Linked DNA regions of Homo sapiens. The protein of the gene in region 2 interacts with the protein of the main gene of each other region in a pairwise test. Each region holds a gene or a part of one and is shown on either strand. Other genes may lie near its edges. The genes, in order: TFCP2 and RBMS1.

What was found.
Region 1: the proteins of RBMS1 (region 2) and TFCP2 interact in binary tests that used the Homo sapiens proteins (3 or more experiments, as listed by UniProt).

What each region holds. Positions count from the first base shown.
Region 1 is NC_000012.12:51,110,430-51,114,259, forward strand, and holds part of TFCP2 (alpha-globin transcription factor CP2), read right to left. Parts: intron 555-3,830; coding exon 448-554; intron 1-447.
Region 2 is NC_000002.12:160,277,039-160,280,868, forward strand, and holds part of RBMS1 (RNA-binding motif, single-stranded-interacting protein 1), read right to left. Parts: intron 1,621-3,830; coding exon 1,510-1,620; intron 346-1,509; coding exon 265-345; intron 1-264.

The DNA.
Region 1 (3,830 bases), on a different chromosome or scaffold from region 2:
ATGGTGACATGCGCCTCTAGTCCCAGCTACTGGTGAGGCTGAGGCAAGAGAATCGCTTGAACTGGGAGGCAGAGGTTGTAGTGAGCCGAGATTGCACCACTCCACTCCAGATTGGGAGACAAAGCCTAGACACTGTCCCCCCCCAAAAAAATTATGCCAATCTAACTGCCAAATAATTGTTATGTAAATTATGGTACAACCAAGAAATGAAATATTATGCAGCCATTACCAAGCAATTTTGGGAGACACAAATAAATAAACTGGGGTATTAGAAGAGCAATTCAGAAACTCCTCAATGCTCTCAGGCACAGGTTAAAGAGCCTGGGCTTGACAGTCAGGCTAGAACCCTGTAAAGATTTCAAAGTTAACATGTTTTATCCTTTAAGAAATAAACTGATAGTAAGAGAGATACTCTTCAAAACTGGAACCCTATCTGCAACGCCTTACCTGAATAAACACAGATGTCCTCTTTGCAGGGTCCCACAGGAACTCCACTGTATTTAGTTGAGTTGGATTAGCCCTAGGATCGATTATACCCACAGACATCGGGATATCTGAGAAACAAAATGGTAATCATTGAACAATTTTGAGGGCCACTCAGTTTTAAATAAGAAAGCATTGATTCTTATATTACTCAATGTAGCTACCAAGATTTTTGTATATCACATCCTAAATTTCTTTGTTTTTTTTTTTTGTCGTTGTTGTTGTTTTTTATGGAGTCTTGTTCTGTTGCCCAAGCTGGAGTGCAGTGGTAACAGGCCTGGAGTGCAGTGGCACCATCTCAGCTCACTGCAACCTCTGCCTCCTGGGTTCAAACGATCCTCCTGCCTCTGCCTCCTGAGTAGCTGGGATTACAGGCCCGTGCCACCACGCCCGGCTAATTTTTTTGTATCTTTAGTAGAGATGGGGTTTCACCATGTTGGCCATGCTGCTCTCAAACTCCTGACCTCAGGTTATCCACCCACCTTGGCCTCCTAAAGTGCTGGGATTACAGGCTTGAGCCACTGTGCCCAGCCCACACCTTAAATTTCTTTTTTGTCAATGAAAATATTTGATTAGAGTAAAATTGACTTAAGTACTTTGCTTGAGCACCTTTTTTCCTCTTTAAAAAGTTTTTAAAATACGGCAATTAAAAAAATTATTTGGCCAGGCACGGTGGCTCACACCTGTAATCCCAGCACTTTGGGAGCCCAAGGCAGGCGGATCATGATGTCAGGAGTTCGAGACCAGCCTGACCAACATGACGTAACCTCATCTCTACTAAAAATACAAAAATTAGCCGGCCGTGGTGGCCCACACCTGTAATCCCAGCTACTCAGGAGGCTGAAGCAGGAGAATTGCTTGAACCTGGGAGGTGGAGGTTGCAGTGAGCCGGAGATCGAGCCACTGCACTCCAGCCTGGGTGACAAAGCAAGACTTCATCTCAAAAAAAAAAATTATTTTTAGGCCAGGCGTGGTGGCTTACACCTGTTATCCCAGCACTTTGGGAGGCCAAGGTGAGCGGATCACCTGAAGTCAAGAGTTCAAGACCAGCCTGGCCAACATGGCGAAACCCCGTCTCTACTAAAAAATACAAAAATTAGCCAGGCATGGTAGTGGGCATCTGTAATCCCAGCTACCTGAGAGGCTGAGGCAGAGAGAACTGCTTGAACCAGGGAGGCGGAGGTTGCAGTGAGCCAGTATTGCGCCACTGTGCTCCAGCCTGGGTGACAGAGCAAGACTGTCTCGAAAAACAAAAAAATCATTTTTAAATTGAGAAATAATAATTGTACATATTCATGGGCTATATAGTGATGTTTCAATACATATAATGCATAGTGATCAGATCAGGGTAATCAGCATATTCATTGTCTCAAACATCTGTCATTTCTTTGTGTTGGGAATGTTTAGTATCCTCCTTCTAGCTTAAAATATGGCAATTTAAAGGCAGTTTCCTTTTAATTTGTTAAAATCCTATTTAAGGTGGATTAAGTCTACACTATCATGAAAACTGTAATTTATAATCTATTTCAACTACAGTTTGAAAATTAGTTTCATTGCCAAAAGCACATTAAGAGTATTGCTATTGAAGGGGTGCAGCAGAGTGTCTATATGAAGGTAGAAAGCATTATATCATGAATGAAAGTGGGAAAATTTTAACATAAAGATTGATGCAGGCCAAGCGTGGTGGCTCACGCCTGCAATCCCAGTACTTTGGGAGGCCAAGGCGGGTGGATCATTTGAGGTCAGGAGTTCGAGACCAGCCTGGCCAACATGGTGAAAACTTGTCTCTACTACAAATATAAAAATTAGCTGGGCGTGGTTGTGGATGCCTATAATCCCAGCTACTCAGGAGTCTGAGGCATGAGAATGGCTTGAACCCGGGAGACAGAGGTTGCAGTGAGCCGAGATCATGCCATTGTACTCCAGCCTGGATGACAGAGCAAGACTCTGTCTCAAAAAAAAAAAAAAAAAGATGGTTGATGCTGACTTACCAAGTCATCAAATAATCCTATAACAGAGTGACAAATCTTTACTTAAAAGGGAAGCAAGAATTAATGGGTTTGAGTAGAACTTTTCTTTCCATTCCACACAGCAGATATTCAAATAGCATTCCCTGATTTCTCCTATTAATGATCAAACTGGGGAGTTAAGGCCAGGTAATATGTATTATCAGAACTGTGGTATTAACTATACTACTGTTTTGGTATCAATGATTCAAACAATAGAGCATCAAGTGGGTCCCACTCCACAATATTAGTTGTGTTAGATTCATCTTAAGGTCAACTTATCATACAGATATCAGGATCACTGCATGAGAACCAATGTTTTCTCAGGTAAAATTAGTAGCAGTTAAATTTTTCTTAACAACTATGTTTACCAAAAGGAAATTTTAACCAATTAGAAATCAGAGAGGCAGACACCATGAAAAGTGACTGCATGTGTATTTGTGAAGATCTTTCCTTTATACCCTATGACTTAGGAAAAACAAATTCTACTCTGTGTAGCAACGTGGGAAGACACAACTTAACTGCAAACCAAGTGACATAGCTTCTAATACCAGAACTCCCACTTTATAGTGCCTGGTTCTCAGGCACTAGTAAAATGAAGGAACTTTCAGCATGCTGGGGAAAAAAGTCTGCCCCTCTTTACAAACGCAAAACAAAATATCAGATCCTGAGCAGCCAAAACAATCGTGAAATAGAACAAAGTTGGAGTTCTCATGCTTCACGACTTCCAAACTGACTATAAAGCTACACTTAGCAAAATAGTGAGGTATAGGCATAAAGACAGACATTTAAACAAATGGAATAGAATAGACAGCCTACAAATAAGTATTCAAATATATGGTCAAATGAGTTTTGACAAGGGTGCAAGACCATTCAGTGGGGGAAAGAACAGTCTTTTCAACAAACGGTGTGGAGAAAACTGGGTATCCACATGCAAAAGAATGAAGTTGGGCCCTTCTTTCTGTATATGGTTTACCATACAACCTTTTTTGTATATGGTTGTACCATATACAAACACGAACTCAAAATGGACCTGTGACCTGAATATAAGACCTAAAACTATAAAACTCTTAGGAGAAAACATATGGGAAAAGCTTCTTGGCACTGAATTTGGCAATGATTTCTTGGATGTGGCACCAAAAGCACAGGGAATTAAAAAAAATTAGATAAATTGGACCACCTCAATGTAAAACTTTAGTGCATCAAAGGATAGTATCAACACAGTAAAAAAGCAACCCACACAATAACAGAAAAGATTTGCATGTGATATATCTGCTATGGGGTTAATATCCAGAATATTTTAAAAATTCTTTCAACTCAATAACAAAAAAAACAAAACAA
Region 2 (3,830 bases):
GGCCAATTTTCAAACAATTTTATTTTTTGTAGAGATGGGATCTCACTATGTTGCCCAGGCTGGTCTCTAACTCCTGACCATAAGCAATCCTCCCTCCTCAGCCTTCCAAAGTGTTGGACTTACAGGCATGACCCACCACATCTGGCTAAACGCAATTCTTTATGCAAATATTTGACGTCTGGTAGATTTTTCTGAGTTCTATTTAATTTACCCATTTCTGAAACTACTTATAGCCAGAATGGTCACTGGATGGTCTCTACCAACCTCAACAGGAACCGCTGTCGTCTGCATATGTGCATACTGTGGCAAGTAGGCTCCTTGCATAGCTGACGTTGCAGGCATGTACTAGAAAGAAGAATGAGGTCAGAATGGGCAATGGTAAACCATGCAAAATTTGGAGTACGTGGGGGGATTGTGAGATGGATATAATGTATTTGGAAATCTCAAAGAAGAAATTTAAATGGGCTACACCTCAAAGCTTAAATAGTGCATATAAATATGTCATATGGAAGGTAAACTGTTTTCTACTTTTTGAATCTGCTAAACTAAAAATTCCACATTTCTTTGGATTTGCTAACAAAGTGAAGATAAAAAAAGTTTATTATGGGTGAAGATAAAAAAGTTTGTCACTCTCAATAATTCAGTATCACTAATGTGTGATTTTAGAAGATCTCTCCTCAAAGGACCTCATTATTTTCTAGCAGCCCCCTAAACTAGTACCTAGTATTGTTTCTACAGGTAGAGCCCACAGGGGTAAGACTTATTAGACCTCTAACAGGTCACTGCAGATTAGGCAGCAGAGCCTGGCTTTTCTGACACTGACAGTCATCCTTTCCCAAAGGCAGGAGAAATTTCTAGTCAGTCTCATTGGATATGTGTGGCCCTGGCTTAGCCTTCACAAGAAACAGCTGTAGGTTTTGAGTGTATAAGGGGAAAACGCACCACCCTTTGTTCTTTTAAGCCACTATAGAATAGAGGCTAAATTAAAATCCTTTAGCCATCTTACCAGCAAAATGCTAAGCATCAAATCTGGAAGCTGATCTGGTGCCAGCTCAACCTCATTACCCAAAGGAGTCCCCTGGACTTTGGTGAAATATTTCAATATTAAGACCATGATTCAATACTCCCAAACTCCATAAAAGAAGAAATAAGCGAGAAATAATTCCCTGCTTTTACCATCTTGTATTACCTTCGTCTTTCGCTTCATGACACTGCCACAGGGACAGTGGTACTAGTTATATAGATGACACTAGTCATAAAAGGCTAGATGTGGTCACGTGTGGGTGCTATATTCTCGTAAAGGAGAGATACCCAGAGAATAGACTTTCAGTTCATCAATTAATTAAGAAATAGCTGAGTATTTACTTTATGGAAGGTCATGTGGGGGGAAGAGAGGGGATTAGACATAATCTGTTATCATAGAGGCTGTCATTTGATAGGGAAGATACAGGCTGCATTAATTTACCCTCCTCTGTTTACAGAGACACATGATAATTATTTGCCACCTACTGTTCCGGTGCTGCCTAGTGACAGATGACTCATCTGCTGGGCCAGAGGGCTGATCATTGATGCGGGCTGTAGTGACATGGTGTGCTCCATTGAGGGAGTTAACACGGCACCCTGGGGAGTTGGAGACAGGAGCAAAATTAGACAAACTGAGGCAAGAGTTAAGATCCTGTAATTACTTTTTACAAAGGAAATACCTTAGTTTGTTTAAGAATGTGAAGCAAAAACAACCTTCCTCAATCTTGCAAATGGCATCATAAACAGTTTCCTAAAAATCTTCTAAATTGCTCTTCCTGAGAGTTTTTTAAGAGCGTTAGGGGAAATGATATCTTGGCATTCACTTCACAACAATCCCTGTATTAAAGCCAGTGTCCCTCTTCTCCTTCCCTTTCCCTTCACTTCCAGTAACTGGAAGCAAGCTAGTCCAGCAGGAGGAGCTATCATAGGAAAAACAAACTGATTATCACTGCCTGCCTAGGGTTACAAAACGCTTTCTTAAAAAAAAATCTGGAAAAAAAAGGCAGTTGATGTTTTCTCCAGTCACCAAACAATGTATTATATTTAATAAGATCAATATAGTATTTTGTTTAACAATGTTCTATCCAGATAATCGTCTGGTTCAAGATCAGGTTGTTAGGATCAAGAGCACATTTCTTCATTCACTCAGTGTTTCTCAGAACTTTAAGTTACATTTTGGTGCCTGGGAGGGAAGGCAATTCAGATATGATTAATAATCTGAGTCCAGATTCTTTTATTTAATTTGAAAAAATGTTAGTCATTAAAATCAAATTAAATATATTTAGGAAAATAGGAGGGAAAAAAAAAACAATTGCTTCTAACTCAGCCAGTCTAATACAACCACTGTTAGCAATGTCAGGGTACTACTGCCAGATCATAGCCTCTGTGTGTTTCTGTACAGGTTCAATCAGAGCACATCAACAACTTCATATCCTGGGATTTTGCTCTTAACTTTGCATTCTATTCTAACCATTTACCTAGCTTGTTGAAAAACTATCATTATCATCATTTTTTTAAATGGTTACATTGATTGTATAAACCAAAATTCAATGAACTCTTTATTTTTGGACTTTTGCAATCACCTCATTATCTGAGAATGCAAGTATTCTGACACGCTCTGTAACTACTAATGTATGTTTTGTTATCACTGTACCTGGCATCCCTTAAATACAACTGTTATTTATTGATAATTAGATAGACAATCTAGGACAGAGTTAGGTGTACAGGAACTTTAATTCTGATGTAAATCAGGCAGTTTAAAGCTGGGTGGGGAAAGGTAATGAATCCTCAGATAGCAACCTTCTGCTTACATTCCTAATGTCTCCTCAAAGATGTTAAGCTCAGATACGTGCAGTCTTTTTCTCAAATGTTGCCAAAAAGAAAAAAAGATATAGATGTGTGTCAGAGATAATGTTTGTCATTAATACATTCTGTTAGAAATTTTTTTTTTAACATGCATCATCAAAAAGCAAGTGGTAACACGGAAATGACTCAGAAGCCTAGAAGATGGTGGAGCAGTTTCCTGCTCCTTTTTCTCATTCATTGGCACCATCTGTAATAGGAAGTCCTCAAATTCAAAGCAAGCTGATTTCCAAGCATTCCAAAATAGGGTAGCATGGAGTATCAGGGACACAGATTGCTATGGGCATGTGTGGATCAGTGCATGTATATTATGTACACATGTACAGGTAAGTGTGGGTTTGAAGATGTGTCTATGTATGTGCACATGTATAGATCTATATGTATGTGTATATATCACACAAAACGTATACATATATCAGAGCGCGCCTCTCCTATTTCATCACCTAAACATGTTTTATCTGCTTCTTAAAGGTCATCTCAGCAATTTCTCATTCAGAACCTGTTATCCCTGGATTGCTATTTCATATACATGGTCTTACATCGCAGTATCCACTTTAAAAGGTATCCGAAGACAAATTGCTGTCTGAACATAAGGCCAAGAATACAGTTCTTTTTCTAAGCAACCAAATCTGTTTTTATTTTACACATATTGTGAACTGTATTGCTTACCAGGATTCCCATTTTGCATCAGTTACTAGAAAGCTTAGAGCCAAATTTGTGATTTTCTCATGTGAGCATGCAGGGTCATTGTGTTGGACATCCTTAGCCTTATTGTAACTTTGTTCTCCATATGTATTTTTAAATTTTCAAACCCTTCTTCCACAAACTAGATCTTATGTGTCTTTGAAAAACACATGAAATACACTATATAATAAGTATAACTCATTCAATTTAAAAAAATGTAATATATATGAATGCTCACGTCATTAAGAAATCACATTTGT